6 linked regions of the Homo sapiens genome follow. The protein of the gene in region 3 purifies or fractionates together with the protein of the main gene of each other region. This does not show direct contact. Each region holds a gene or a part of one and is shown on either strand. Other genes may lie near its edges.

Region 1 (5,235 bases), on a different chromosome or scaffold from region 3:
CTACCATGCCCAGTTTTAATTTATTTATGTGATGTAAAAGCCAACTAGATCAATTTGCTTTCCCAGAGAGGCTTGAGCAGCCTTATCTGTATCTGCTTTCTGAGAAAACTCTTTTAAGATCAGGGGGCTGGGATACCCTGGTAAACAGTTCCACCTGATGGATGTTGGCCTCCTGTACTTTGATCTCCTGGGGGCTGGAACGAGATGGATTCAAAAAGTAGCCATGATTTTCTACAACACCCGGAGTCTTTAATAAGCAGGAGATACTCAGAATTACTCCCAGCAAGGTCTTCTGGTACATTTGCCCATTGGTAGGGTCCTTGGGCTGAATGTATTCTACAAAAACCTGTAAGAGAAGACAAGTTCTGCTTATTCATCTTCATGGTGAGATAAGGTGATGGGGTGGGAGGGCCTCAAAACAGTTAAGTTGATACAACAACCAAGCTATCTTTTTCTTATTTTATAGGTAGTATTATAGTGTCTTCAGGATAGGGAAGCATCATGTATTACACATCTAGCTCAACTGAATACATATCATCTTTCAGACCTACCTTTGCCATATCTTTTTGCCTAGTGAAATAGAGAAGAATATCCAGATATGCATACAAAAGGATCTGACAGAGCTCTAGATCTTTTATTCGGCCCAATAAAATATCAAACACTGGAATCATGACTTCTGGAAATGTTCTAACTTCCTCATCCAATATCAAGGCTTCAATGACCTCTTCCAGAAACTCAGTTACATCTTCAAAATCTAACAGAAGACAAATGAGAGAGAAAGGAGGGCACAAGAATTTTTATATGCCTTTACACACTAGCTCTTTACTTTCAATAATTCTTTTTTTTTTTTTTTTAGAGCTGGGGGTCTTGTTTTTTTGCTCAGCCTGGAGTGTAGTGGCTATTCACAGGTGTGATTATAGCACACTACAGCCTCAAACTCCTGGGCTCAAGGGATCCTTCTGCCTCAGCCTCCAGAGTAGATGGGACTACAGGGGTGTGCTACCATGCCCAGCTTTATTCTATTGGTACTCAACCTCAAAGATCAAGATGTGAGCCCTCCTCCTTAATTTATACCAGAACCATAATGGCTCTGAGACTTTCTAATGCAATTAGTGAAATTTTAAATCTGAAAATCAAAATGTAGAAGCTTACAGATCTTGTTCATGTACTCACGGGCTCCCTGGATGGCTTCTAACATCAAATCTACCAGTTGCTCATGGATGTTTTGGTCAACATAGATCTCTGGGGTGAGAAGAACTGTTCGGGTATTGGACACAGTGAGGTTTCTGCACTGCACTGCAAAGGGTAGCAGGTTCTCTGGAACTTTGGTAATCTGCAAACAGCATGAAGAAAAGAGGGAATAGTCTAACTCTGTAATCTGGAACGAAAGTAGACATAGTGAATACAATAGAAGAGACATACTGGTCTCCTGTGGATGCTTGAAAATTAATTAGAGATTCCTTCCTTGGCTTAAGGAATCATCTATCTGCCTATTTAAAATTCCAAACCTGGAAATATCCGGCTTAGCCTACTCTAATATTTACATCTCAGTGGAAATGAATTCATGAGCCCTTTTCTGATTTTTGAGACAGAGTCTCGCTCTGTCACCCAGGCTGGAGTGCAGTGGTGTGATCTCAGCTCACTGCAACCTCCACCTCCCAGGTTCAAGTGATTCTCCTGCCTCAGCCTCCTGAGTAGCTGGGATTATAAATGTGTGCCACCATGCCCGGCTAATTTTTGTATTTTCAGTAAAGGTTTTGCCATGTTGGCCAGGCTGGTCTCGAACTCCTGGCCTCATGTGATCCGCCTGCATCGGCCTCCCAAAGTGCTGGGATTACAGGAGTGAGCCACTGTGCCCAGCCTCATGAGATTTTTTTAAGGATGTGATTTCTAAAGAGGTTTTAGAGAGAATAGGAGGCATTGGTTAACTGGGGAGAAGGGTGGACCCCAAGATACGGAAAGGAGACTAAAGCTTTAGTGCATCTGATATCCAGTGTTCTAAACATACTATGACATATATAAATTGATATAAAAGCTTTAGTGTCCCTGATATTCACTTCTAGACATACTATGACATATATAAATTGAAATAAAGACTGATCCAACTCTGGCCCACATGCTGAAGTCATACCCAAGAGGACAATACAGTATTCAATGGGGATTATTCCTTTACCTCTTCCTTGGCTCTCTGGAAGCAGGAGTAAAGGTAACAAAAAATGTGCCTCTCTCCTGCATCTCGATCAGCAGAGAGATTTAGCGTTGTAGAAGAAGTCATGTTAATTAAGTGGTTGCCTGGATCTTGAAGTAATAAGCGAGCGAAGAGGGCCTATAAAGAAAACCAAACAAAAATACTAAACTATTGCAAAATTAATCTGAGAACATTAAGATGTAAAAGGTAATTCTGACACAGGTTATTAGCAAGAATCACAGATTTGAATGTAGAGTGAAGGAGAAAAAAAGGGCCCTGTATATTTTTACTTTAGAAAATTTTAGAAAATTATGGCATATATAAAGTTATCCTAAATCAAGCCTCAAGTGTCTAGTATAGCCCCAGCATAGAGTAGGCATTAAAAGACTATTTGTTGAATGGTGCTGAGATCAGTGATTAAACTTAGATGTGAAATCTACTATTCTGTGTGATTGCTGATCTCATTCAGACTTATATAAAGATACTCCAAATGTGAAGTTAAACTGCAAGCTGTCAACTGTCTTTCCTACCAAACTTTTATTCTTTTAATGTTACTCAGGCACCTGCAAGGTACAACGCACTGTTTTGATTTTTAAAGTGCTGTGGTTTATATGTTTGTCTCCAACAAAATTCATGTTGAAATTTGATCTCCATGTGGCACTGTTGGAGGTGGGGCTAGTGGGAGGTGTCTGGGTATGGAGGCGGATCCCTCCTGAATTGCTTGGTGCTTTTCTCAAGGTGCTGAATGAGTTCTTGCTCTCACAAGACTGGATTAATTCTCATAGGAATGGACAAATTCCCTCCAGAGCGGGTTCTTATTAAGCCAGGACACCTCTCAGGTTTTCTCCTCCTTGCATGCGTCCTCATGGTATGTGTCCTTTGGTGACTTCCTCCACCACATTGTGAGGCAGCACAAAAGCCCTCACCAGAGGCCAAGGACATACCCTGAATCTTCTCAGCCTGCAGAACTGTGAGCTAAATAAACTTTTCTTTATAAATTACTGCTTGGGTGTTCTTTTTTTTTTTTTTAGATGGGTCTTTCTTGCTCTGTCGCCCAGGCTGGAGTGCAGTCGTGTGACTATGGCTCACTGCAGCCTCTGCCTCCCAGGCTCAAGCAATCCTCCCACCTCAGCCTCCTGAGTAGCTAGGACTTCAGGTACATGCCATCACACCCAGTTAATTCTTTGTATTTTTTGTAGAAACATGGTCTTGTTATGTTGCCAGGGCTGGTAACTCCTGGCCTGGAGATCCTCCCAACTTGGCCTCCCAAAGTGCTGGGATTACAGATGTGAGCCACTGTGCCTAGTCACAGGTATTCTTTTATAGCAACACAAAACAGACTAAGATAGAAAGGATATAAAGAAGAAAAAGCGATGGGCCTTGCCCTTAAGAACTTAAGTCTAATAGGGGAGATAAGACAGGTACATAAGAAAGCCGCAACATGAGACAGAAAGTGACAATTCCCACAAGAGATTCAGAGGCTGATTATTCTAGGTACCCAGAGGAGGGAGTAACAACTTTTATTTGGCAAGGCTTTGTAATTTTTTCTTTTTTTTTTTTGAGACGGAGTCTTGCTCTGTTGTCCAGGCTGGAGTGCAGTGGTATGATCTCGGCTCATTGCAACCTCCGCCTCCTGGGTTTAAACCATTCTCCTGCCTCAGCCTCCCAAGTAGTTGGGACTACAGGCGCCCACCACCATGCCCAGCTAATTTTTTGTATTTTTAGTAGAGACGGCGTTTCACCATGTTAGCCAGATGGTCTTGATCTCCTGACCTCGTGATCCACCTGCCTCAGCCTCCCAAAGTGCTGGGATTACAGGCGTGAGTCAATGTGCCTGGCCAAGGCTTTGTAATTAAGAAGGCATTTTAACTGGTTCTTAGAGGATGGGTAGATTTGGGCATGTGGCCATGGTAGATGAAAAGATTCCAAAAGAGGAACACCACAATGTTAGAGATGCACATCCAGGTTACTTGGCCTTCTACTGGTAAAAAAAAAAAAAAAAAAAGAGAGAGGGATGGACATATGGACACAAGCATAAGTTGGAGAACAGTGAGCAGAATTCAGCCGCATAGCTAATTTTTGCTAAGGGCACACATTAGGAACGTAAGAATATTACCTGCTCAACATTGCTCATATCAAGCCAGTCTTGATCTTCTAGCTCTACTGCCATTTCTTCCAAATACACACAACGGCTAGGGATGCCATTCCCGCTTTTCAAGCTGGGATCACCTGGGAAATGGTTTTAATATGATAGGTTAAGGATAATGCTTCTGTTTTATACAGACAACTGATCTTGACAGCATCACTCTTGAACTGCAAATCTGACTCAAGTAATACCAGAATGATCCTGATACACAAAGCAACATCTAAAGATTCAAATCTTTTTTTTTCCCCCTCTAGTCACAGAGAATGGGATTTGTTATAAACCTAGCATCATGACATTTAAAGAGTAAATCCCAGACATTAGTACCAACCTTGGGGTTTAAACACAGACAGGGCACAGAGGGCAAACACTCTCTGATGCCTCTGAAGGCTTCCATCTGAATATTTAGGTTACCTCTGAGAAGAAAATGGGTTTGGCTACCCTTCCCATTTCCTTTTTAAGGTAGTAAAGGCAAGTAGCTATATAGTGCAGTCAGTATTGAAATGGGAACAAAAGTTAGATCTGCATCTAAATACTGTTTTTAGGTCATACCAAAAGGTTCACTGAAATATAAACCCTGAGTTCCAGGGAGTGCAGTGAGTAGGTTTGTATCTAACCATTAGCTGTAACCAGTTTCAAAGAGCAAGCCCCTAGCCCAAGCTCAAATAGGAAGGGTAGAATAATGCTATAAGTTTGTAACTCACTGTTGTCCAGAGTAATAAGGAAGATCCTTTGGATCATGTGATTGATGTTGAGTTGCTCACATATTTCCTGCTGTGATCGGAATGAGCGGCTAATCTCAGCCACAGAGTAATCGAATTCATCCAGGCTCTCTGACACGCTATTATCCGAGTCATCTGGGCTAGCTGGGAGTTCATCTGCCAGAAAATGTATACTGTTAAAT
Region 2 (5,235 bases), on a different chromosome or scaffold from region 3:
AGCATACATATGGTAACTGATGCTCAGGTGTATGTACAGAGTTTAAAAAAACTGGAACAGAAGCTGGAAGGATGGCAATATCTAAAACTGAATTTCTTAGACTATGTGTGGTCTACCTGCATTATACTCTCCCAAGGAGTTTGATAAAAATGTAGAATCCTTCGCTTTACCACCAACCTACTGAATCAGATACTCTGGGTGTCTTGGAAATCTGCATTTTAAGCAAGCAACTCCCAATTCCCCAATTATTTTTGTACAAGGTAAAGTTTGAGAACTACTTATCTAAAGGGTGAGTATGAAAAAGAGCAAGGGCAAAGAAACAAAAACAAAAACAACAAAGTTAAGAAGGAGATGAGCTGGCCAGGCATGGCGGCTCATGCCTGTAATCCCAGCACTTTGGGAGGCCAAGGCAGGTGATTGCTTCAGCTCAGGAGATCAAGATCAGCCTGGGTGACATGGCAAAACCCCGTCTCTACAAAAAATACAAAAATTAGCTGGGTGTGGTGGCACTTGCCTGTAGTCCCAGCTACATGGGAGGCTGAGGCGGGAGGATCACTTGAGCCCAAGAGTTCAAGTTTACAATGAGCCATAATCATGCCACTGAATTCCAGCCTGAGCAACATGGTACAACCCTATCTCTACAAAAAATAAAAAAAAACTAACCAGGTGTGGTGGTATGCACTTGTAGTTCCAGGTACTAGGGAGGTTGTGGTGGGAAGATCACTTGAGCCTAGGAGTTCAAGGTCACGGTGAGCTATGACGGTGCCACTGCACTCTAGCCTGGGTGACAGAGTGACCTGTCTTTAAAAAATAAAAAACATTATGGCCGGGCGTGGTGGGTTCACGCCTGTAATCCCAGCACTTTGGGAGGCCGAGGCAGGCAGATCACCTGAGGTCAGGAGTTTGAGACCAGCCTGACCAGGAGAAACCCTGTCTCTACTAAAAATACAAAATTAGCCGGGCGTGGTGGTACATGCCTATAATCCCAGCTACTCAGGAGGCTGAGGCAGGAAAACCGCTTGAATCCAGGAGGTGGAGGTTGAGGTGAGCCGAGATCACGCCACTGTACTCCAGCCTGGGCAACAAGAGCGAAACTCTGTCTCAAAATAAATAAATAAATAAAAATTTAAAAAATTGAAAAAGTGGGAAAATTATTTAAAGTTCTAATTTATTTCTGTACATTTCCAAGCTCCTCTCACTGCCCTACAGCATAAACAAAGTCAGAATCTCAGTAATTTATAAGAAGAAAAATAATAGTGGACAATATCTGAAAAAATGGACTGAATGAGAATCATTTTGAAGCAAAGGTCTTGGACAAACTGCAAAGGTTTGGCAGATGCCTAGCAAATTAGTGAATAACCACCATGACCTCTCCAGGTGTAACTAAATCCTGGAAGTGTATAAACATAGAAACAGTCCTTTATGACAAAAAAAGATGAGTTACTTTTGAAAAGTACAGAAATAAAGCTGTCAGCTTCACAGTGCCATATGGATGCTCTCTCCCAGATTAACCAAATTACTTAACATCAGACCAAAATTAAACCAGGCCTTCACTTACAAGCTATTAATGGCTGGGCACAATGGCTCACACCTGTAATCCCAGCACTTTGGGAGGCCAAGGCAGGAGGATCGCTTGAGGCCTGGAGTTTAAGACCAGCCTGGCCGACATGAAGAAACCCTGTCTCTACTAAAAATTCAAAAATTAGCCAGGTGTGGTGGTGCACACCTGTAGTCCCAGCTATTTGGGAGGCTAAGACAGGAGAATCACTTAAACCCAGGAGACAGAGGTTGCAGTGAGCCAGAATCACACCACTGCACTCCAGCCTGGGTGATAAGAGTGAGACTCCGTCTCAAAAAAAAAAAAAAAAAAAAAAAAAAGAGGATCTGTACTCCGAAGATACCGGCCTGACCGGGGGACAAAACGATTAAGTAAATGCCGAATGAACTCACACTTATTTAGGACCCTTCCACACCCACTTACCCTGAATCTTAAGTTACCACAAAACATTCTATGGAGATAAAGCAAACTGGAAAAGAAGATACCTTTACTTCATTATTTTCATTTTTGCTTTTATGTTTCTTTGTAGTCCTTCATTTGTAAGTGTTATGAGAGGAAAAAAAATCTACTGAGTACAAGGTGCTCACTTGCATGCTACTGCAGACTAATCCATTTTTACTTACTATTGCCACGAAATGCCACACATTAGTTACACGACTTTGAGTGACTTTCTCTCTTAGGAGTTGTACTACATAATCTTTAAGAATGTTTTCCAAATCTGAAAGTCCACAGTTCTAAGTAAGATTGGAGAAGAGGGAAATAGTGACAAAGAATACGAATATTAAAATGTATAAGACAGCTGATACAGATGATACTCTTAATTTACTTAAATTTTTAGCCCTCCAATTATGAAGAAAAAGAATATCCAGAGGCAGAGAACTCAGTACTAGCAATACAACTTCTTGATTCAGTAAGGCTACAACTAACAAACTGGTAACATTTCAAGAGTTTCTCTGTTAGCTGCTACCTAGAGCATGGAACATATATTTTTTTCAACAAAATGAAGTGCCATAGAGTGGTTAGGCTCTTAGGCAAATTCACAAGTTTAACCTTTGATGCAAGTAAATTACCAGACACTGATTAAAAAATAGAAAATAGAATACAGAAAGTAGATATTGCCAAACTAGGGATTAAGCAAAAACAACATCAAAATGAAACAACACAAAATTTATCTTGAAACCTATTTTTCAAAAAGTCAACCAAAAGAGCCACAGGCCTGATTACGCTAGTGCTCCTTTTAGTAACTAGATTATAATAGCTCACTTCTTAAGTCCATGGGGTCGAAGTTAAGGACCCCTGCTTAAATAAAGTGAGATGGGCTTACTAGGTTTCAGGTACCAGCGACAGACACTAGGGCATCAGAGGTATGTCAAAGCCCAAAGCTAGGAAAACAGCACAGAGCGGAGAGGAGAAGAAGACGGGGTTTCTCTTAGCCTTCCCCTGACACCAGTGGAAAAGGAACTTAGTGATTGGAATGTTCTCTCCACATCCCAGCTCCAGGATTCCCTGGACCATATTTGGGAATTCAGTGGCAGCTCAGTAAACATAACCTAAAAATTGGGGAAGGTATGCTTCCTAGCTGAGGCAGGGATTGTGAAATGCAACAACTTGCTGGGCATGGTGGCACAAGCCTGTAGTCCCACCTACTCAGGAGGCTGAGGTAGGAAGATCAATTAAGGCTGCAATGCATGGGAGTAACCATGCACTTCAGCCTGGGCAATAAAGAAAGACCCCCATCTCTAAAAGAAAAAGAAATAATTCCTTTAACCATCATGCCAAGTAATGGACACCAGCTGCTGCCTGCAGCAGCCCCAGCTCTGACTGTGAAGAGGTTGCCTGCAGGAATGTATGCTCCTTGCTCTTACTTAACCCCCTTTTCAACCCACCAAAGGATGTACCATTTCCAATACATACGCATGTTGACAAGTCTGCGGTATGTAACTGGTGGGTGCCTATCTTTATTGTCTGCTAAACCTTGAAATATAAAAAATCAAATGAATTTTCATCTCTCCTGGGAAAGACTCCTTGATGTACTTAAAAAGTTATAATGGCCGGGCACAGCGGCTCACGCCTGTAATCCCAGCACTTTGAGAGGCCAAGGTGGGCGGATCACAAGGTTTGGAGTTTGAGACCAGCCTGTCCAGTATGGTAAAACCCTGTCTCTACTAAAAATACACACACACACACACACACACACACACACACACACACACACACAAATTAGCCGGGTGTGGTAGTGCATGCCTGTAATCCCAGCTACTCGGGATGCTGAGGCAGGAGAATCACTTGAACCCGGGAGGCGGAGGTTGTGGTGAGCCAAGATAGCGCCATTGCACTCCAGCCTGGGCAACAAGAGCAAAACTCCATCTCAAAAAAAAAAAAAAAAAAAGTTATAATGATGGTTGGACAATTCAGATTTTTAAGTCATAAGTACTTCTTTATGATCACTGTGGAAAACAATGACCCATATATCTAATCTGGGTGTGTTTAATATTAAAGGTTCTCAAAAGGTATGTACCACTCTAATTTTCTAAAAGCTGTTAATCCAGTTAGCCCTTAGCCCTTTGCCTGGTAGTAGGTCACTTTAAAACTGAAATCACACTTATGCTCTCATTCAAATATTGTAACCAAGAATAAGCAGCAAGAATTTGGTATGTCAGGACAAAGTATACAGATGGTCCCCACCTTTCGATGGTTCAACTTATAATTTCTTGACTTTACAATGCTGCAAAAGTGACATGCATTTGGTAGCAACTGTACTGAGTGCCCATATAACCATTCTGTTTTTCACTTTCAGTGAAGTATTCATGAATTACATGAGGTATTTTGATACTTTATTGTAAAAGATGCTGTTAGATGATTTTGCCCAAATTTGGCTAATGTAAGTATTGTGAGCACGTTTAAGGTAGGTTAGGCTAAGCTACAATGTTTGGTAGGTACATTAAATGCATTTTTGACTTACAGTATTTTCGACTTACAATGAGTTTATCAGCACATAACCCCTTCATAAGCTGAGGAGCATCTGTATATACTAAGCTTTTAATTATGTTTCTGAATGTACAAATCTGCAATATATATGGATTTCATACACTAATGTGATCTTTCAAGTCCTTAAGTACAGTATATACAAATATTATAATTAATCACGATCTAAATTGATAGTTTGGATTCTACCTGCATACAAATTATGGCCAGGAAGGGAAGCATGGGTCATGCACAATCAGCTATCAGAGTGGAACTCGGCAGCTCACCACAGCACCCAATTCTTTTACTTTATTTATATGTGGTGCCTTTTCTTCAGATTAAATCCAACTTTCCTCCCCTGGCCTCTTATTGTTACACTGCAGACACCAACCTTATTTCTTCTGGCATAAAATCTTGTGGCTGCCTGAACATAACATTGTAAATGTTATGTATAGCAAAGTATTGGAAAATTCAATGAAAAGGATCACTTAAAAAGTCATGTAATAGAGAAATCTTGCTTTTTAAACTTTAAGCCTAATTACTTAGCTCAGCAGTGACTTGGCAGAGATCCAAAAGATTCTTCAGCTCTTCCCTGCTTCTCTGAGGCAAGTTTCCAGTAACCCCTGCCTTCCCCCATTAATACATATGTATCCAAAGTGCAAAAAGAAGGAATTTGTTAAAAAAAAAAAAAAAATCAGACTCTACTTTCCCAT
Region 3 (6,023 bases):
TGTGTATTTTTAGTAGAGACAGGGTTTCACCATGTTGGTCAGGCTGGTCTCAAACTCCTGACCTCAAGGGATCCATCTGCCTCGGCCTTGATTCTTTTGTATAGAACCACACCTGGCCTTGGTTCTTTTGTATAGTTTCTATTTCTCCTCTGAGATTTCCTATGTATTCATTGGGAGCATATTTTCCTTTATATATTTGAGCATAGTAAGAGTATCTGCTTTAAAACCTTTGCTATTTCCAACAACTTATTCCTGGAAGTCAATCTTCATTGATTATCTTTTCTCTTAAGCATGGGTGACATAGTACTCTTTCTTCATGTGTTTGATAAATTTGTTTTTATCTTAGAAATTGTGAATGGTATACATTGTTGAGACTGTGTGTTCTGTTATATTTCTCTGGAGGGTGTTTAAAAATTTTTTTTAATTTTGTTTTTGTTTGTTTGTTATTTTAGCAGGCAGAAAACTCTGTGTCCTGAGGTGAACAGCTGAAACTTCTGTTCAGGTTATTTAACCTTAGCTGGGCTCCTTGGAGTTAGCTGGCAGATGTATAGTTCAAGGGTCATCCAGAGATTTGGGTAGAATTTAGATGTAGAATTTGGGGCTCTCTTCTCTGGTTTTTCTTTTGAGAATTTCCTTTCTCCCTATCCAGCCCTTGTGGTCTCTGCTTCTGAGGTTATGATATGGGTAGTGTGGTCTGCTGGTCTTGAGTTAGTAAATTCTGGCTTCAGCAAGATAGAAGGCACACTGACAGAAAGAAGCTGTCTTGGTAAGGACACTAGTGCAGGGATGGCTCCAGTGAGTAGAACAGTATATGCTTGTAGCAGGTAAGACTGGAGCCAAGCTGATTAAAATTCAACCCCAAAGAACACACAAGTAATAAATACATGAAAAGATGCTTATCTTGACTAATACTCAAGGAAGTACAAATTAGAACCACATTGAAATATCTTAGCCTATCAGATTGGCAAAGATGAAAAAGACTGATAATGTTTACTGTTGGTGAAGGTTACAGGCATTCTTACATTGTTGGTGAGAGCAAAAGTCTGTGCAACACTTTTTATGTAGGGCCATATCTCAGCATCTATCAATATTTTAAAATGCTAACCCTAAGACCCCACAATTCTACCCCTAGCAATTTATCCTACAGTAGGACTCACTCTGTTGTTTGAAGATCCATGCCCAGAATTATTCACGAAATTCACTTAAAATAGCATATATGCTTGAACCCAGGAGTCTGAGGCTGCAGCGAGCTATGATCATGTCACTGCACTCCAGCCCAGCCTGGGCGACAGAGCAAGACTCTGTGTCTAAAGAAATGAAAATAAAAATAAATAAAATAGCATATACAGGCAACAATCCAAATGTTCATTGCAGAAATTATGATTATTATTGTTTTTCTTTTAGAGGCAGGGTGTCACTCTGTTGCCCAGACTAATCTTGACCTCCTGTGATCCTCAAGAGATCCTCCGGTCTCTGCTTCCCAAAGTTCTTGGATTACAGGTGTGAGGCACTGGGCCTAGACATTGCAGGGATTATTAAACCATGGTGCATACTACCATTAAAGGTATGAGGTAGGTTTTATATGCTGACCTAGAAAGATGGTGCAACACCATAGGGGAACAAGAAGGCTGCAAAGTGGCAGCACAGCAGGAGTCTTTAAGAAATAGGTATTTGTTTCAGCTTAAGAAGTGTCTGGCTGGGCGTGGTGGCTCACACCTGTAATCCCAGCACTTAGGGAGGCTTAGGTGGGCGGATCACTTGAGGTTAGGAGTTCAAGACCAGCCCAGTCAACACGGTGAAACCCCATCTCTACTAAAAATACAAAGAAATTAGCTGGGCTTGGTGGCAGGTGGCTGTAATCCCAGCTACTCAGGAGCTGAGGCAGGAGAATCATCTGAACCCGGGAGGCCGAGGTTGCAGTGAGCCTAGATCGCACCACTGCACTCCAGCCTGGGTGACAGAGTAAGACTCGGTCAAAAAAAAAAAAAAAAAAGACCGGGTGCGAGGTGGCTCTCGCCTGTAATCCCAGCACTTTGGGAGGCCTAGGCAGGAGGATCACAAGGTCAGGAGATCGAGACCATCCTGGCCAACATGGTGAAACCCCATCTCTACTAAAATACAAAAATTAGCCGGGTGTGATGGCACACGCCTGTAGTCCCAGCTACTCAGGAGGCTGAGGCAGGGGAATCGCTTGAAACCAGGAGGTGGAGGCTGCAGTGAGCCGAGATCACGCCACTGCACTCCAGCCTGGCGACAGAGCAAGACTCCATCTCAAAAAAGAAAAGAAAACAAACAAACAAACAAAATCCCCAAAAAGCAAAAGTGTCTGCATGGACTTGTGCCTAACTACTCACAGTGGCTACTTCTTGGGGGAGGTGAAAGGGGACCCTGTTAAAGAATTTTTCTTCTGTATTGTTTTTCTTCAACTGAGTCTGCATTAATTTTATATTTAATACTCTCCCCACCCCTGATGCTCACAGGTTGCTTTAGCTGGTGGAAGGAGAACCTGCACCTCTGGTTTTGGCAAAGTGTAGAAGGGGACAAGGGCACTGCTCTGCACCTGCACAGGTTCTTGCCTCCTGGGGTCAGTTTAATGAATCTCAGTGGTGTTTCTTGGGAAGAACACAGTGGACACTCACTTGCCAGTCAGTAGACAAATCACTGAAGTCCATGTCTGGCAGTTCTCAATGTCATGGGGACTGTAAGGTTGTCATGTCTCACAGTTCCCTGACTTAGAAGATTAGTGGTGACAGACACTTCTCAGCTCTGCTCGGGAGAGCAGCTCTGTAATGCGCTTGTGGTTTCAGATGTGGGCGGCCTGTGTGAACCTGTCGTGCAAAGCTCACGTCACCAACTGCTGCAGTTATCTCCTGAATCAGGCTGAGGGTCTTTGCTGTGCACCCAGAGATAGTTGGGTGACAAATCACCTCCAGGTTGGGGATGCCTCAGACTTGTGATGGGACTGGGCAGATGCATCTGGGAAGGTGAGTCTGTGCTTTGGGCTTCCCAACCTCTCAAGTCAGCATGAAATTCAGAAGGCAGAGAGGGACATGTGGCCCTCCAACTCGGGGCCCAGGGAGCCACTGTGGCATTTGAGAGCGCCACCCTAGCTTTACCTCCTCTGGTGTCCTGGCCTTGTGTATCTCTTAGAGATGGCAAAATTTGCAGCCCTGACCTCAAGGATTACAAACTAATTTCCAGTCCTGTAGGGGTCATGGGTTCTGCTGTGGCCAGTGTGGCACTGAGTTTGTCAGGCAGAATTTCTAATTATGGAAGGAACTCTGCTTCCTCAGTGATTGAACTGACCTTTGTGGGGGTGCCTTTGTGGGGTGAGAATGGGCATACTTGGGCCTCAGTTGTGATGGCCATGGGGTGGAGCTGAGGTCTAGGCCCAGGGCTGGGAAAGCTTCTACCAACCCCGAGGCATTTGGGTGTTTTAGGGCAGAAGAGGAGCCAGGAGGATGGGTATGCCCCACTGGAGCTGTGTGTGGGGCAGCAGGTGAGGGTGGGATTCCAGAGGGAGGGTCAACCCAGCCAAGCAGAGGAAGGGGAGGAGAGGGTTTGTTTTGGAAAGAACATCACCCTCTCAGTTTCCTGGGGTCTGGATAGCCTGTTCTTGTGATGAGCTGGAGGATGTGGGCCCTGCTTGGATCCTCCTCTCCCCTCCCTGCCCCCATTTTCTCTTCCTGTGATTTATGCTGTTCTGGGCTCACCCTCTTCCCAGAGCTGTCACGCTACAGCTGACAGGCAGGGCAGGCGTTTTAATTATTATTAATTTTTTTTTGAGACAGAGTTTGAGACAGTATCAAGAGTGGGTATCCTCTCAGCGTGTCTTCAAGTAGCATCCCAGAGCCCCGCTCCTGGGTACCCACAACATGAACACCGTCCAGAAGCAAGGGCAGCCTCTGCAGGTGGGGCGGGGGTTGGAAAACATTTATCAAACGGTTGAGTTGGGTGCAGGGGATGCAACATGATCAAACAGGGTCTTGCCTCCAGGAGCCTCATGTAGGGACAACGCACAGTGATGACCTTCAACTGCAGTGGGGCAGCAAGGCTGTGGGAGGGGTGTTTTGGGCAGAGCAGGCGACGTGGGTACCTCTTCACCAAGACAGCAGGAAGAGCACGGACATCATTTTCCCGTCTCACCTCCAGACTCCCAGGGGACTGTGCCAATATCCTCACTCCAGCCCTGGCCCATGGCCACTGCTCAACCCTTGGGCCCTGTCAGTTCAGGGCTGTGCAGAAGGAGAGTTGCCTGTGCTCAGGCTCAGGGGTTCCGTCCAGCTAAGGAGGCCTACTAGGGGACTGGGGAAAGGCCTCATGAAGGACCAGGCCTGTGATGGGGAGGGAAGATGGCAGAGGGGACAGTGGGAAGCAGAGCAGCAGGGGTCTCCTCCACGCCTCTCTGTACTTCTCCCACCCACCCTTGCCTACTCCCCTCTGCCCTGGGTATGTGCCCTTGTCCACCCAACACCTCTGCAGTGCCAAGTCCAGCCCTGACTTCTTCCTGAGCTGTGGCCCAGCGTTCCCACAGGCATTTACCTCACGGATGCAGCACTGCCCCTCATCCTCTTCTCTGAAAGTGTGTGGGAAATGCTTCTTGGTGCCATCTCTCTCCCACCCTGCCTTCCCTGCACCTTCTCTATGAGGTGTCTGTTGTCTCTGTACTTGCCTCCAGCTGGCCTTTCAGACCCCATCCCTCCTGCCTCCTGCCCATCCCTACCCCTGTCAGCACCTTACATACTCTGTGCCCAACAGCATTGGGGATTCCCACTGTGCTGAAGGAAGTCCTCATGTGGTCCAGAGAGGGAGCTGGCCCCTGCTCCCATTTCCAGCACCATTTTCTGGCACAGGCTCCATGTCCCCAGGCTCCAGCTGCTTCTGGGGTACCAAGGTCTGCATTTCTTCCTCTTCCCCCAGCAGACAGAAGACCTTGCTGGACAGGTGTCCACTTCAATAGTAACTTCTGAGGCTGCCAGCCTCCTGAATGGTCCAGAAGAACCAGACCCTTCCCCGCCCCCATTAAAAAAGACAAAATATGGCCAGGCATGTTGGCTCATGCCTGACATCCCAGCACTTTGGGAGGCCAAAGCAGGTGAATCACTTGAGGCCAGGAGTACGAGACCAGCCTGACAAACATGGTGAAACCCTGTGTCTACTAAAAATACAAAAATTAGCCAGGCGTGGTGACTCATGCTTGTAAATGCTTGTAATCCCAGCTACTTGGGAGGCTGAAGCAGGAGGATCACTTGAACTCGGGAGGCAGAGGTTGCAGTGAGCCGAGATCACGCCACTGTGTTCCAGCCTGAGCGACAGAGCGAGACTCCGTCTAAAAAAAAAAAATATATATATATATACACACATATATATATGCATAATAGTCTCTGTGTAACAGTAAGTGGATGCAGTAACTGGTGTGAGGGCAACTTGGAGAGTGTGCTTGGAGGCACAGAGATGCTCAGGGCTGCCTGGACTGCCTCCATGATGGTGGCCTGCTCTGTATTAGGTGAGTGTTCAGGAAAGGTGAGGGCAGGGCAGCCCACAGCTTCACAGTGGCCCAGGGAAGCAGGGCAGGCAGGCTATGAGGCCTAGTAGGCATCTGGGCCAGACTTTGACACTGAGGCCATGGAATGGGTGGGGCTCTGAGAACAGACCAAAGTGATCATGGGCTGAAGGCTATGTCCACAGATCCAAGGCGGGATAGGCTGTGCTGGGCAGTGATGTCAGCCAGGCTCCCCAGCGGGACTGGGGGTGTCAGGGGCAGCTCTGTCCCAGGTGGCAGACACTGGTTTCCCCTCCTGCTCTCACAACCGGCCTGTTACCAGGTGTTGTCTGAGCTGTGGTGAGGCTTCCCTGGTGACATTCAGGAGCAGGGAGCCTGTGAGTAAGGGTGTATGCATCTGCCCTGACTGCCTGGCCCTGTGGTCAAGGATGGGGGAAGGCAGCTCTGCCTGCAGCTCCACCCCATTTATAAAGCACTGTGGTGCCTTCTGCTGGGGCATGTGCTGAGTGGTGCCTCGCAG
Region 4 (5,235 bases), on a different chromosome or scaffold from region 3:
CAGGGGGGTGGTGGTCGGTTTGGGAGGATGGATCCTGGCCCACCCCTCTCCCTTACAGGCACATCCAACTTCGGGACGATGGATTCTCACCAGAGGCCACACTGCTGTCCGTGTCCCGAAGCAGGGGTACATAGGAGCCTTGGCCACCAGCTGGGGGAGAGTGGCTGTCAGTGGCCGCGCACCAGGAGCAGAGCCCCTCCTCGGCTCCCAAGACACTCTTCCTTCCAGCCCCTGCCCCTCAGTGTCCAGATGCCCAGCACACTCCCACCAGCTGTTCCTGCTTCCCCCGGCCTCACCTGAGCTACTCCTGTCAACGTCTCCAGGGTATCCTCCAGGGTACCCGTTGTAGGCAGGGCCCATGGGAATCATAGCTGGTGGGGGTGGGGTCTTGGCGGGAGACAGGTGGGCATAGGTGCTGGGGGCATAAATGCTGGGAACACCTGAGGTGGCTGCTTTGCCGGCGGCATACACTGTGAGGACACAATCAACAGGAGAAGGGGGATGAGGCAGGAGCCAGGCTGCCCCATACCCATTGGGTTCCGGAGGGACCTGGGCCTGGACCTCCTTCCCAAGCCGTCCTCTCCGCTGTAGAGCTTCCTTGGACATCTGAGTCCCTGTTGGTCCTCATTCCATTTCTGCAGCATCCCTGAGGCTGGGGGACACCAGCTTCACAGAGACCCCACCCCACTTCCTGTGTGATTTTTCAGAGGGTGCACGCAGGCACCCACAGCCCCAGGGTGGCAGAACAATGTTTCATTTAACAGCATGGTAATTCGCCAACATTTGTCAATCAAAAGGTTTTACCTAAACTTCCAACTCCCCAGCTAACTTACTGGAAGAAGTGGCCACCCATGGTCTGTGTGTTTACAGGGCAACAAAGCTGCCCTTTATATAAAGCCCAGATGCTGGGTCCACCACTGTCCCCACAAGCCGAAATCAAGTATCCTCTTTGGCAGCCAAGCCCCTGTTCTAGAAAAAATGAGTCATCTGGGAGACGTGGGTCCTGCCCACCTGGTCACCTTCCAGATTGAGATGCAGTGGCAGGAGCCTCGGGAATTAACTTGCCTGCCCCGGCCAAGCAGCAAAGTGTCTCCTCTAGTGTTTCTAACTCATGGACTGCACCCATTTCTGCCTGCCCCACCAGGCTCTAGGCTTGACAGTTCAAGGTAAGATCCTCCTCCCTTCCTTCCTCCCTAGGGCAAGAGGCTTGCAAAATTCCTGGGCCCTAGGCAAGTGGCTTCCTCCCTGGGACCCCAACAGGAAAATGGAGGAGAGAGATGGGCCCAGAGAGGGTGCCTCACCTCTGATTTGGTTTGGAAGCAGAAGACTAAGTGCACAGCCTAGAGGAAGCCCCTTCATTAGCTCAGGCAGCCTGCAACTTTATCATCAGCAGTGGGACCTGCTGCCTCCTGAAGGGTGGGCGGAGGCTGTGGCAGCAGCAGATGTAACAGGGCCTCTGCCAGGGAGTTAATGGGGCCCTGGGTTGGGGTAACAGGGTCTCCGGATGGAGGAAATGTGGTGTGGGGACAGGGGAATGTGGCATTGGGACCAGCATTTAGTCCTGGCCCTAGCTCTGGTCTTAGTGGGTTCACTGCAAACTTGGTTGCAGCCCATCTGTGAAATGGACCTAACACTTACTCACTGAGCAAAAAGCTGTCAGCTGAACACAACAAGAGGGAGGGGATGGGATGGCCTGCATAAGCCTCCAGGGAGCAGTGGAATTTTTTCAGGGAAGTGATCCTTTGAGGAACCAGGTTGCACACCACTGACTTCAATGACTATAAAATTAGCCAGCGACTTCCTTAATGCTAACAACAACCCATGAAGTCAGGACCTAACAGAAGGAAACAGGACTCAGAGAGGGAAGGCTGCTTCTCTGGGGTCACTCTGTGTGCACCAGGGCTCTGACTGGTGCCCTGTCCCTCAGTCACTACTGAGGCTGATAGTGGCAGTGCCCAGCAGCTGACAGACGTAGAATATTTTATATAGGTTGGGCCCCATGCTCAATGGTGTGCACATGAGCTCGCCAAATCCCCAGATGCACCCAGTGTGGTGAGCTCTGCCATAAGCCCCATTTTATAGGGGATGACACTGAGCCCTAGGGAGGGAAACTGCTCACTGGGCTTCTGAGCAGGAAGGTGTCAAGCAGGCCTCAGCTCTCCACCTGCCCATGCTTGCAAGGATTGCCTGGCACTTCACTGTTCATGTATCTTGGACTGTGTGCACACAGGCTGGTCTACCCAGACACCCTCCTGAAGGAAACCAAGGACTGGCAACAGCTGTGGTCCCCGAGGAGGGGAAACGGGACAGCAGCTAGAGGGATGCTGAAGTGTCCATCAGTGCCACTTAGTGTACACACTGTGGTCTGGTGTCCCAAGGCTGATGGCTGTGACCACGTCAATCAGCTCCTCTGTGAAAGTGTCCCGTTGGGATATTCACAAACATTCACAGAAGAGAGACAGGAGCAAGTCTTTTTCAATTGCACATGTCTGACTCCTCTCATAGAGTTAGGTCCCTCTCTCTCTGTCTTCTGTCTTCTCTTACCTTCCCCTGCTTGGTTTGCTTACTTCCCCTTTAGCTCTCATCTCACATCCAGTCCCAGCTCTCCACAGTAGCCATGCTGGTGTGCTAGATACGACCCTAGACATAGTAGCTGGGTAAAATGTGCAGCATTCCTGTGGGTATGTGTTTTCAAACATTTGCTTAAATTTGGCCAGGCATGGTGGCTCACACCTGTAGTCCTAACACTTTGGGAGGCCAAGGTAGGGGTGCGGGGGAGCGGACTGCCTGAGGTCAGGAGTTCGAGACCAGCCTGGCCAACATGGCAAAACCCCGTCTCTACTAAAAATACAAAAATTAGTCAGGCGTGGTGGCAGGCGCCTATATCCCAGCTACTCGGGAGGCTGAGGCAGGAGAATAGCTTAAACCCGGGGGGCGGAGGTTGCAGTGAGCAGAGATCACGCCACTTTACTCCAGCCTGGGCGACAGAGTGAAACTGTCTCCAAAAAAAAAAAAAAATTTGCTTAAGTTTAAGGCCAGGTGTGGTAGTTCATGCCTGTAATCCCATCACTTTGGGAGCCTGAGGCAGGATCACTTGAGGTCAAGAGTTCAAGACCAGCCTGGGCAACATAGCAAGACCCTGTCTCTACAGAAAATTTTTAAAAATTGGCCAGCATGGTGGCACATGCCTGTAATCCCAGCACTTTGGGGAGGCTGACTTGGGAGGATCACCTGAGGCCAGGAGTTTGAGATCAGGCTGGGCAACATACTGAGACCCCGTCTCTACAAAAAACAAAAATCAAAAAATTAGCTGGGCATGGTGGTGTGTGCCTACAGTCCCAGCTGCTCCAGAGGCTGAGGCGGGAGGACTGCTTGAACCCGGGAGTTTGAGGCTGCAGAGAGCTATGATCGCACTGCACTGCCTGGATGACAGAATGAGACCCTTTCTCTAAAACAAAAAAAATTTTTTTTGCTTAAATCATGTAGTGTTGTAAACCTTGTTTGGTTTCTTAACTTTTTCACTTAACATTTTTTTTTCTTTTTTTTTTGAGACAGAGTCTCACTCTGTCGCCCAGGCTGGAGTGCAGTGGCGTGATCTCAGCTCACTGCAACCTCCACTTCTTGGGTTTAAGCGATTCTCATGCCTCAGTCTCCTGAGTAGCTGGGATTACAGGCGATCACCACCATGCCCAGCTAATTTTTGTATTTTTAGTAGAGAACTGGGTTTTACCATGTTGGCCAGGCTGATCTGGAACTCCTGACCTCAAGTGATCCACTCGTCTTGGCCTCCCAAAGTGCTGGGATTACAGGCGTAATCACTGCGCCTAGCCAAGATTTGGTTTTTTTAGAGGGCTTTACTTCCATGTGACTAGTATCTTGTACTGTTGGACATTTTTACCATGTGTATGGATTATACTTACAAAAGAAAAGAACAACATAAATAAAAATAAACTAAAAGTTGGAGGAAGTAAACGACAATCTAAACAGCAGACCCTCCTCAGCCTACTTTCTCCCCACTGGCTAAATTCACACCCTCCAGACCAACGCCACTGTCCTGGGGGCAGGTGGATGGCCACCTCCTTCCCTTGGATGCAGGATGTTGCCCAAACCAGGGTGGCCATGAGCGGGACACTTACGGGCCTCGGGGCAGCAGCACTTGTCTGGGCAGCAGGGGCACCTGACGTAGCAGCAGCAAGTGTGCGGGCAGCACTGGCACCAGCAGATGCCCAGGAGGAGGAAGATGAGGAAGGCAGCCAGGCATACCACAACCACGAAGAGCCAGTCTGCAGAAAGACAACAGGCCCTGAGCCCGGAGGCCTGGGAGGGAACAGGGCTAACGGCACAGCAGGGGTACATGGTGCGGAGCCAGCACTGAGGTCGGGGACGATTTGCAAAGCTCACCAAGGAACCTGCAGCCCTGGCTGGATTTTTTGTGCCAGAGGCTGGGCACAGCACACTCCCCATTCTACCATCCCGGCCATTCCCCAGTTACGGCCCTCCCCCAGGTGCAAAAAACACAAGGCAGAAAACGAGGCAGCCTGCACAGAGGGAGACAGACTGCAGCCCCCAGACCAAAGAGAGAGCCAGCTGCCCAGACGCCACACCCTCAAGAGCACCGCAGGTGCCAGTCACAGAGCCCTGGCCTGCACCCCAGGCTCTCCTCAGCCCAGCCTAGCCTAGGCCCAGCGCCAGACCACTAGATGCCTCAGAGCCACAGTCAGGCCAGGTTAGTGAGGGGTCCACAGTGAGCAGGGTTTAGTGGGGAAGGGGATACTAACTAGAGTCAGAAGCAGTAGGTGATGTATGGGAGCTCCCGAGAAGCCCAACTCAGGATCCACCCCCCGTACCTTCTATGGGCCCCGCCTGAAAACCAGGTAAGAGCTCAGCCACCCCTGAGGTCCTCCCTGGAGGGACAAAAGAGAAACAGATTATGCTGGCCAGAGCCAGCCCAGGCTGTGCCACCCCCGAAAGCCCAGCTCCAGGCTGGCCAAGTGCAAGGTGTGCCCTGAAGCGGGAAGGGGCTGGGGGCTGAAGCCCTAGTGCATGGCTCCTACCCTCCACCCGCCCACATGTGGGTGCTTATAGGTAAGAAACTCCCATTGCATAATCCACCTGTGTTATGCCACGAGGGCTCCAATACAAATCCCAGGGGGTTCTGAGGGCTCTACCTCAGCTTGGGCACCCTAAGTTTCCCTCATTCATAGGTCTTAGCACCCCAAAGGGCTCCAACCACGG
Region 5 (4,193 bases), on a different chromosome or scaffold from region 3:
ACAAATGAATTTTGTGTTTAGACTTGGGTCTACTCCCAAGATACCTCATTATATATATACAAAAATCCCCAAATCCAAAAACATTTGAAACACTTCTGGTCCCACACATTTTGGATAAGGGATATTTGACCTATATCTAATTATATAATAAGAAAAATGTATTTTCTTTTTTTTTTTTTTTTGAGATGGAGTTTCACTCTTGTTGTCGCCCAGGCTGCAATGGCACAATCTTGGCTTACTACAACCTCCGCCTCCCTAGTTCAAGGGATTCTCCTGCCTCAGCCTCCCAGGTAGCTGGGATTACAGGCATGTGCCACCATGCCTGGCTAATTTTGTATTTTTAGTAGAGACGGGGTTTCGCCATGTTGGTCAGACTGGTCTTGAACTCCTGACCTCAGGTGATCCGCCCGCCTCAGCCTCCCAACGTGCTGGGATTACAGGTGTGAGCCACCGTACCTGGCAGAAAATGTACTTTCTTTCTCAGAAATACTTTTAAAAAAAATTGAAGGGTGAGGAGAAAAACATCTTGGAGAAGAGGACCCATTAAAACTTTAAATATCTGTGGGAACCATTTTTCCTGATTTTCCCTTTTTTAACATCATGGCAAAGATGGGTTTTTTTCCAACAAAATTTAATTTAATATCTTTCCACTTGAAGATTTTAGGTTTGTTTTCAATACTTAATGAATATAAAACTAAAGGAGAAAAGCCAACCTGAAATAATTTAAACTTTATATGAACATTTCGATAAGAGTTTGTGGATTTTTTCTGTAGATAATATATTTGATCCGGAACTCAAGTGCATGGAAACATGATTTTGATTTTTAAAATCTAAAAAAAAAAAAAATTAAAATCATGCTTCCCTCTATTGCAGTATCAGTTATTTAGTCACAGAATGGTATTTTATGTAAATTAAAATTAGGTGAATGCAATGCAGGTAACTGGTTTTGGAATGGGAATGTGCAGTGCTTTATGTTTGGGGAGTTGGAGCAGGGTATCTTTTCATCAATTAGAAGGAAAGTTTGAAACTTCTGATTACCTTTATGTTGGTTTCTCTTATTATTTGTCTCTTGCTAGATCTGCTAAACCAACCCAGCTTGCTCAGAGATCTCATATTGAAGCAACATACAGGCAATCCACATCTTTCTTTCCCTTTGAAGTATAGTCATTGGATGGGATGAGGGACAGGGCCTGTTGGGTTCACAGGGCCTTGCACTGCATGGGCACATACTTAAAAGCTCTTGTGCATGGAATCCCTGTCTGTTAGCCACAGGCCTCTTTAGCTCTATACATTCAAAATAACTACTGTAGTAGAAAATAGATAAGCTTCAGCTGAGTTGGCTTTTGATAGTGGAAAAAAAACAAAATTTGACTTTTTATGGCCAAAATTCCTTGTTGACAGCTGTGATGTTCTAATATGATTTGGGAATATGTCAGTCTACAGAACCTGCATCCTGTAAAAACACCTTTGGGGTAGACGATAAAAGTCATTTTTAAGGCAAATACTTACCATGTGACTTTTTATTACCAAATGCATCAGTAGTGGAGCTGGTATGTTGTTTCATAGGATGGAAACATTAGAAGTCCAGAGAAAAATAAATTTTAAAAAAAGGTGGAAAAGTTACGGCAAACCTGAGATTTCAGCATAAAATCTTTAGTATGAAGTGAGAGAAAGAAGAGGGAGGCTGGTTCTGTTGCTCGTATCAATAGGTTATCTGTGTCCCTCATCTTGGTGTTACAGTGTTATTTCTGTCAGTATTATGAATATGTGGTTGACCCATCCTGTCAAATGTACCAACATTTTCGAAAGAATTCATTCAAATCTCTTATGCCAACAGAAAAGTTCCTTCTTGTTTAATATCTCTTTACCTCAGTCCTACATTTTGATTCTCTGGAGGAGATTTTAGCTTGTCTTAAAAAGCCAAATTTGGAGTCATCAAGCCTGCTGAACCTGATGGGGCAGCTTTTTGAACAGCTTTCTGGAAGTAAGAACTTCAGTTGAAAAGCCCTTTGATCGCTTCAGCCCGGGACATGCCCTTCAGATGGCTTATTCTCAGTAAAGCTTTATGTAGACTGTGACACTGTATATGTGTGACTCGTACAACTTTGACGTGTTTCTGAAGTGGTTTAATCGTATTTGTTATTAGCTTCTTTGTGGAAATGCAATTTTTATACTAAAAACATTGCTTATTTGCAATGCAATATGTTATAAATTTGTTGTTTATATTACTGGTATTAGTCTTAGCCTAATGAACCTAATTATTTTTCTTTCTGTATTCTTTGCTTCCTCAAATAGCATCTGCAGCAATTGGAATGAGAAATCCAGATATGTGTTTCAAGTAGTACATTGCCTGAATCACAAATCACTTGATCACAGTATTGTATATAATCCCTGATCCTATTTGTTTCATTTTATTGTAAATTCCCATTTGCATCAAAACCTAATGATAGTGATTGGTAAGTAAAAACAAATGGTGTATTGCTTTTCATACAAGTGTTTTCACAAAAGCCATTTGCCTAGGCAGCAAAAAATATTAATTTGTTAAAAAAAATTTTCCTTCGTGTCCATCCTCCATCTAGTCTGTTCATTCATTCTCTCTCTTTCTCCCTTCCTGACTCGGTGAAACTCAGACCATGTGCCCTTTAGTTGCTCTGGAAAGTGCACAAAACCAAGGCAGGGTCCAAAGATCCAAGGCTCTTCCAGCCAGTGTGTTGCCATCAGAAACCTCTGGGGTCTCCCTCTGTCCTGAGGTCTTGGGGTAGCCAGATGGCAAGGGATGCTACTAATCCCCCAAGACACTGTGGATTGGTCTTGTCTTTGGGGCTTTCAGAAAACTCCCTTCTACACCTAACTCTCCCCACCACTATAGTGGAAAAGCATCAAGGTGGTAAGGTGGGTCCTTGAAACACCCTCAGAGACTGAAACAATGGAGATTGGATTTTTGTCTTTTGGAAGATGGTGGGGGATGTGTGTAGTGAGAAGACAGTTACTAAACCTGCATACCACCAAGGCCCTCCCTCAGAGATACTGGCTCAGAATGCTTATTTGCCTATACAGAGAAAAATGTCTGTCGTGCTGTCTGCCTAGATGACTTTGGTTATTCATCCTTGCCTATAGCAAAATGCAGCTTTCAAGCCAACAACACTGAATTACAAATTTAACCCCCTGCTTTGCTCTAGTCTTGAATGCTCTTTGGAACATATTTCACAGTAATAGAAATTCTTTCTTGGAACATGTGAGCTTCTTGAGATTGATAACTGTATTACGACAGTCCAGCCTGTGCTAACAGACCCGCAAATCTCGGGGGCTTTAAGAACAAGAATTGTATTACTGATTCACATAGCCCAGGCCAGGCATCCCAGGCAGGCTCTGTCCCATGCAGGTTTTTCTGGGCCTCAAGGTCAAGGGAGGCTTTGCTGTTTAACATGTGGCTGCTGGGCCGGGCATGGTGGCTCACGCCTGTAATCCCAGCACTTTGGGAGGCCGAGGGAGGTGGATCACCTGAGATCAAGAGTTTGAGACCAGCCTTAGTAACATGGCGAAACCCTGTCTCTACTAAAAATACAAAAATAAGCCAGGCGTAATGGCAGGTGCGTATAATCCCAGCTACTCAGGAGGCTGAGGCAGGAGAATTAATTGAACTCGGGAGGCAGAGATTACAGTGAGCCGAGATCATGCCTTTGCACTCCAGCCTTGGCAACAGTGCGAGACTCCATCTCAAAACAAACAACCAAAAAAACGTGGCTGCTAAGGTGGCTGTGATCATTTCCATCCCAGTCAGTCAGAGGAGTAAGAGATGGAGGAACATTGCTGAGAGATTTTAAAGCGAGGCTGCCACACGTGCATCATTTATGTTCACATTTCCTGTGAGAGGACTTAGTCACAGGGTCATACCTAACTTAAAGGAAGACTAGGATGTGTAATCTTGCTGTGTGCTTAAGAACAAAGGGAACTTGAGAGCTAGCAATCTCTTGCCACAGTGACTTTTTCTTGCCCACCTTTGTGAGCCTAGGACCTTCTATAGAGTAAGCTCCTGGGACATAGTATGAATGCACATATGGCAGGAGAGGGCAGAGTACATATGGCCCCAGTGCTGGAGGTCTTCCTGCTGGACTTGACCACTGTGGCTCTTCAAGGTACCAGAGTTTTCAAACTGAGAATTGTCATTTCATGGAGTTTGTATTTTACTTGGG
Region 6 (5,235 bases), on a different chromosome or scaffold from region 3:
TGGGCAGATCATTTGAGGTCAGGAGTTGGAGACAAGCTGGGCCAACATGGTGAAACCCCGTCTCTACTAAAAATACAAAAATTAGCCAGGCATGGTGGCATGTGCCTGTAATCCCAGCTAGACAGGAGGCTGAGGCAGGAGAATCGCTTGAACCCAGGAGGCAGAGATTGCAGTGAGCTGAGATCGCGCCATTTGCACTCCAGCCTGGGTGACAGAGTGAGACTCCATCTCAAAACAAAAAAGAAGTGGGTGTTCGTTAACATTGAGGTTGATAGCCTTTTCTCCCAGCTTATCTGCTGCGTCCCCAGGCCAGCTGGGCGCAGGGGCGGGCAGCTCAGCCCTGCAAGTTGTAGCATTGGTACTGCCAGCTGGCATCGCAGCAGTACCGGATCGGGCCTGGGCGCACGGTTCCTTCCTCTGAAACTTGGTTCGCTCGTCTAACAGGTGGAAGGTTCCACAGCAGAGTGTCCTTTTCTTTTGGAGATGTTCCCACAGGGCCTCCTGCCTGTTTAGTGTCCACTCCCATCGCCGAGCCTCAAGACCTCCGTCCTCAGTAGCAGCAACTCATGGGACTGGGCCACCCCTTATGGCTGAGCCGGCTTTGTTTCTGAAAAGCAACCTTTTCCTGCCTGAAAGATTTAGTAATTGCCTTCCAGAGGAGTTCAAGGAATTTTCTGAAATCTCGGTCTTGGTTTTCCAGGCATGATGTTGCAGCCCCCCTGAGCCCCCATTCACAGGAGGTCTCCTGCTACATTGACTATAACATCTCCATGCCCGCCCAGAACCTCTGGAGACTGGTGAGTAAGGCTGCGGCTATAGCAGCCACAACCGTCAGTAATGAACACTCCCTCACACGGAGCACTTCCTCACCCGGAGCACTCCCTAACACAGAGCACTTCCTAACAGAACACTTCATCACACGGAGCACTTCCTCTAACACGGAGCACTTCCTCTAACACAGGACACTTCCTCACACGGAACACTTCCTCACACGGAGCACTTCCTGTAACAGGACACTTCCTCACACGGAGCACTTCCTCTAACATGGAGCACTTCCTGTAACACAGGACACTTCCTCACACGGAGCACTTCCTCTAACACAGGACACTTCCTCACACGGAGCACTTCCTCACAGGGAGCACTTTCTCTAACACAGGACACTTCCTCACATGGAGCACTTCCTCACATGGAGCACTTCCTCACAGGGAGCACTTCCTCACACGGAACACTTCCTCTAACACAGGACACTTCCTCTCACACTCACACGGAGCACTTCCTCTAACACAGGACACTTCCTCACACGGAGCACTTCCTCACACGGAGCACTTCCTCTAACACAGGACACTTCCTCACACGGAGCACTTCCTCACATGGAGCACTTCCTCACAGGGAGCACTTCCTCACACGGAACACTTCCTCTAACACAGGACACTCTCACACTCACACGGAGCACTTCCTCTAACACAGGACACTTCCTCACACAGAGCACTTCCTCACACGGAGCACTTCCTCACACGGAACACTTCCTCACACGGAACACTTCCTCACACGGAACACCTCCTCACACGGAACACTTCCTCACACGGAGCACTTCCTCACACGGAACACCTCCTCACACGGAGCACTTCCTCACACGGAGCACTTCCTCTAACAGAACACTTCCTCACACGGAGCACTTCCTCACAGGGAGCACTCCATCACACGGAGCACTTGCTCACACGGAGCACTTCCTGACATGGAATGTTTGAAACTGCCGTTGAGAATAATCATTTTTCCTTTTTTTCAGTTTACCCAGTTGAGGTTGGATATTTAGAATAATTCTGATTCAGATGTAAAGTTACATAAGTTTTATTCGTACATAAAGTCACAGATGTTTTCACAGGGAACCGATGCGTCTTCCTTGGTGGAACTGGGGAACCTGGTGGTTTCCTGCATCAGAGGCCTGTGTTCACTGAGATTCTAAATGCTTTGTGTTTGCTCCATGTTGGGTGCCAGGTGCGCTTGAGGCTCTGCCAGGTGAAAGTTCTCCCAACCTGTTTAGCCTCAGGAGCAGGTCCTGAACACAGGACACGAGCTCCAGCCACCCCTCTGCCACCATGATCCAGGAGAAATTCCATTTCTCAGGATTTCCCTGGGGACAGGCTTAGCCGTGAGTGCGGGGGATGTTCCTGAGGCGCTGGGTCTGTGGTCACCTTTCCTTCCAGCGACCAGGGCCACCTGCTCCCCTTACGGAATCGGGTCTCCTGGGAAAGGTTCCATAAAAAGTCTTCTGTTACTGGACCATGTTGCCATCTGAATCTAAGGACATGGACACTAAATGCAGCCCAGCCCCATGACCACAGTGAAGGCACTGGGCTTATTTCCATAGTGAGGTCACACCCCCCCTTCTAGCTTCCCACTGGCTTCAGCGCTTTCTGCCTACGCAGGCTCAGCCCTGTTTCGCTTGACAGAGTTAGCACCACGTCCTCATGGCCAGCCCTCACAGCAAAGCCAGGTATCTGCTGATGTTCTTTTTTTTTTTTTGCGACTGGGTCTCACTCTGTCACCCAGGCTGAAGTGCAGTGGCGTGATCTTGGCTTACTGCAGTGTTGGCCTCCCAAGCTTAGGTGATCCTCCCACCTCTGCCTCTTGGTATTACAGGTTAGCCACCATGCCTGGCCCCTGTTAATTTTGAATATTTAATTTTTAAAATATTTTTTCTATTCCAGGACAGTCTGATTTTTAAAATTTTTTGTGGAGATGGGGTCTTGCTATGTTGTCCAGGCTGGTCTTGAACTCCTGGACTCAAGCCGTCCTCTTACCTCAGCCTCCCAGAGTCGCTGGGATGACAAGTGTGAGCCACTGCTCCAGATTGGCTGTTCCATTTTTGTGCAGAGTGCGCCCCTCTGCCCCACTCGCCGTCTCTGTGCTCTGCATATCTGTGTGCGTTCTGCATTTCCATCCCCGCCCCCCCACAGTCCTTCCCTGACGTGAGTGCTGTGCCCCTTCTCACGGGCACCCTTCTCTGTCCTTTCTGATGGCCCCTTTGGCACCAGGAGCCCACATTTCAGGTGTCTGAAGTTCATAGAACAAGGAAGGAGGGAGCATGCGTGAGGTGTGCGCGCCCGGCCTGCGGCATGGACCGCGGCCAGGCCTCCTCATGCCTGCTCCTGCCTAGCTTCTTGGGTTCTCTGGTTGTGACAGTATGGGAAAATGACAGTCATGTGATGTCATGGGGTCATTGTGAGGCTCCAGTATGTCAGGCTGTGACAAGGCAAAGTGCCTTTCAGATGTTAGTTGTCTTTTTTATTACTCGATGCGAGGAAATCTCTAAGCTGTGTCTGGCAGGGACAGTGTCTGGCCTTCATCTGAGCTGTCTGCGAGTCCTGCCAGATAGGGACTGAGACTTGCTCACTTTTTGGCCAGGGCTCTGAGCCCTATGAATAGGCTTTGCAGAGAGGCACGAAGAACATCAGGCTTTGTATTTTCTGTGAGGAGGCCTCTTGTACGGCCTTGGCGAGGAGGAGGGTGCACTTCCCCAGCGACCCTCGGAGCAGCCCGGGGTGCTGTGGGCATTGGGAAGGAAGGCCAGTACCAGCCCCTTATAGCTTCCCTCACTTGGGGACTTGTCCCTTTGTCTCAGGCTCAAGTCAGTATCATTGTTTGGTGACAGGTCTTTATTTTTACATTGAAGGAAATTTGAAAAGGAATGAAATAATCCTTGAGATGTCTTTTTGCAGGAAATTGTGAACAGAGGATCTGACACAGACGTCTGGAAGACCATCCTCTCAGAGGTCCGCTTTGTGCACGTGAACACTTCCGCTGTCTTAAAGGTAAGGACACTGTCCGTGGCTTGGCCTGTCCTGAGCTGTGGGCTCCAGTCTGTTTCCCAAGCCCCTCAGGCTTCACCGCCTCTCTGCAGGCGGAACGCTTCATTTGAGTCATCATGGCTTCCTCTTACACTGAGGGAGGGCGGCTTTTGTAACTTCTCAGGATGGAATCCCAATGTGAATCTCCCACAAGGGGCACCTGCTGACAGCGTGACCCGGGCAGGGGTTCCCCTTCCAACCCAAGTGGACACGGGAGCCACGGCCTTCCCATCACGCCCTTTACTCTCCTGCGGTGTCACCAGCTGAGCGGGGCTCACCTCCCTGACTGGGGGTATCGGCAACTGGAGATCGTCGGGGAGAAGCTGTCCCGGGGCTACCACGGGAGCACGGTGTGGAACGTGGAGGAGCACCGATACGGCGCGAGTGAGTCCGCGGCGTGGCTTCCGCCGCTCCTGGAATGTACTTTCAGCTGCTCAATATTTGATAACACCCCAGAGTTCTCATTTTGGTGGGAAGGGAACTGAGCACATTCTCCATGCTCGGTGGCAGGTCATCTCCCTCCCTGCACCCTGCACTCAGCTGCTGCAGTAATAACTCAAGACGCTTCTTCCGAGGTGTCGCTGGAAGGCAACCAGTTTATCCCCGTGCAAGTGGAGCTTTCTCAGGGTCGAAATCACCTCATTTGACCGGGCAGTCTTGGGTGTGGTGGGGAAAGCTAAGTGGAATGATGCGGTTCGATAAGGGGTCTTTGTTAGAAAGGCAGGAAGCCAGCTTTTTGCTGCACTGACAGCTTCTGCTCTGAGCTCTTGACCTTGTGCTACTTCTATCTGTTATGCCCTTGTCTGTTCTGCCAGGCCAGGAGCAGAGGGAGCGGGAACGGGAGCTGCACTCACCTGCGCAGGTGGACGTCAGCAGGAACCTCAGCTTCATGGCGAGATTCTCGGAGCTGCAGGTGAGGAGCGGCCAGGGGAAGCTGGCCTAGCTCGCTGAGCATTGACTCCTCAGCAGGGAGGCCTGGGGGCTGCACAGGACTCAAACCAGAGTCAGGCTTTGACGCTGGAGCTACAGGCTCACAACAGAATGAGTGTCTCCTCTCTCCAGTGTAAGGGACTGTGTGTGACACCCCTGGCCCACACCTTGTGGCCCTGTGGTCAGGAATAATAGGGACCCAGGAGGTTCTGCAACATCGCCAGGGTGTCTTAAGGCCCCCAGGCAGCGAAATGGGCCACACTCAACAGAGCCCAAGAGAAGTCACAATCAGAAACTCACGGTCACAAATCTGAACGTGACCTTAGAGAGCATTCAGCCCAATCACTTCGTCTACAGAGGAGGTAACTGGAGCACATAGGGTGGGGCGACCCTCCCAAGGCCACATTCAGGGCTGGAATCCAGGTTCTCATCATGCTGCCTCCGATGCATGATCCGA

What was found.
Region 1: the proteins of IL9R (region 3) and UBE4A purify together in Homo sapiens (affinity purification with mass spectrometry, with the first as the bait; one large-scale study listed by BioGRID). This does not show direct contact.
Region 2: the proteins of IL9R (region 3) and TTC17 purify together in Homo sapiens (affinity purification with mass spectrometry, with the first as the bait; one large-scale study listed by BioGRID). This does not show direct contact.
Region 4: the proteins of IL9R (region 3) and LSR purify together in Homo sapiens (affinity purification with mass spectrometry; 3 studies listed by BioGRID and IntAct, with this or other methods). This does not show direct contact.
Region 5: the proteins of IL9R (region 3) and TMX4 purify together in Homo sapiens (affinity purification with mass spectrometry; one large-scale study listed by BioGRID and IntAct). This does not show direct contact.
Region 6: the proteins of IL9R (region 3) and POMT1 purify together in Homo sapiens (affinity purification with mass spectrometry, with the first as the bait; one large-scale study listed by BioGRID). This does not show direct contact.

The regions. Positions count from the first base shown.
Region 1 is NC_000011.10:118,368,605-118,373,839, reverse strand, and holds part of UBE4A (ubiquitin conjugation factor E4 A), read right to left. Parts: intron 5,210-5,235; coding exon 5,036-5,209; intron 4,418-5,035; coding exon 4,305-4,417; intron 2,327-4,304; coding exon 2,174-2,326; intron 1,334-2,173; coding exon 1,174-1,333; coding exon of another isoform or gene 1,153-1,173; intron 755-1,152; coding exon 552-754; intron 347-551; coding exon 155-346; intron 1-154.
Region 2 is NC_000011.10:43,360,691-43,365,925, reverse strand, and holds part of TTC17 (tetratricopeptide repeat protein 17 isoform 1 precursor), read right to left. Parts: intron 1-5,235. UniProt on the Homo sapiens protein: Plays a role in primary ciliogenesis by modulating actin polymerization.
Region 3 is NC_000023.11:155,994,804-156,000,826, forward strand, and holds the start of IL9R (interleukin-9 receptor isoform 1 precursor), read left to right. Parts: upstream 1-2,892; 5' UTR 2,893-2,940; coding exon of another isoform or gene 2,941-2,956; coding exon 2,957-2,984; intron 2,985-6,023.
Region 4 is NC_000019.10:35,261,594-35,266,828, reverse strand, and holds part of LSR (lipolysis-stimulated lipoprotein receptor isoform 2 precursor), read right to left. Parts: intron 4,905-5,235; coding exon 4,848-4,904; intron 4,284-4,847; coding exon 4,137-4,283; intron 471-4,136; coding exon 297-470; intron 151-296; coding exon 91-150; intron 1-90. UniProt on the Homo sapiens protein: Probable role in the clearance of triglyceride-rich lipoprotein from blood. Binds chylomicrons, LDL and VLDL in presence of free fatty acids and allows their subsequent uptake in the cells.
Region 5 is NC_000020.11:7,975,727-7,979,919, reverse strand, and holds the end of TMX4 (thioredoxin-related transmembrane protein 4 precursor), read left to right. Parts: 3' UTR 1-2,574; downstream 2,575-4,193.
Region 6 is NC_000009.12:131,514,726-131,519,960, forward strand, and holds part of POMT1 (protein O-mannosyl-transferase 1), read left to right. Parts: intron 1-700; coding exon 701-797; intron 798-1,832; exon of another isoform or gene 1,833-2,298; intron 2,299-2,801; exon of another isoform or gene 2,802-3,178; intron 3,179-3,319; exon of another isoform or gene 3,320-3,418; coding exon of another isoform or gene 3,419-3,628; intron 3,629-3,719; coding exon 3,720-3,812; intron 3,813-3,972; coding exon of another isoform or gene 3,973-3,990; exon of another isoform or gene 3,991-4,111; coding exon 4,112-4,232; intron 4,233-4,663; coding exon 4,664-4,761; intron 4,762-5,235. UniProt on the Homo sapiens protein: Transfers mannosyl residues to the hydroxyl group of serine or threonine residues. Coexpression of both POMT1 and POMT2 is necessary for enzyme activity, expression of either POMT1 or POMT2 alone is insufficient.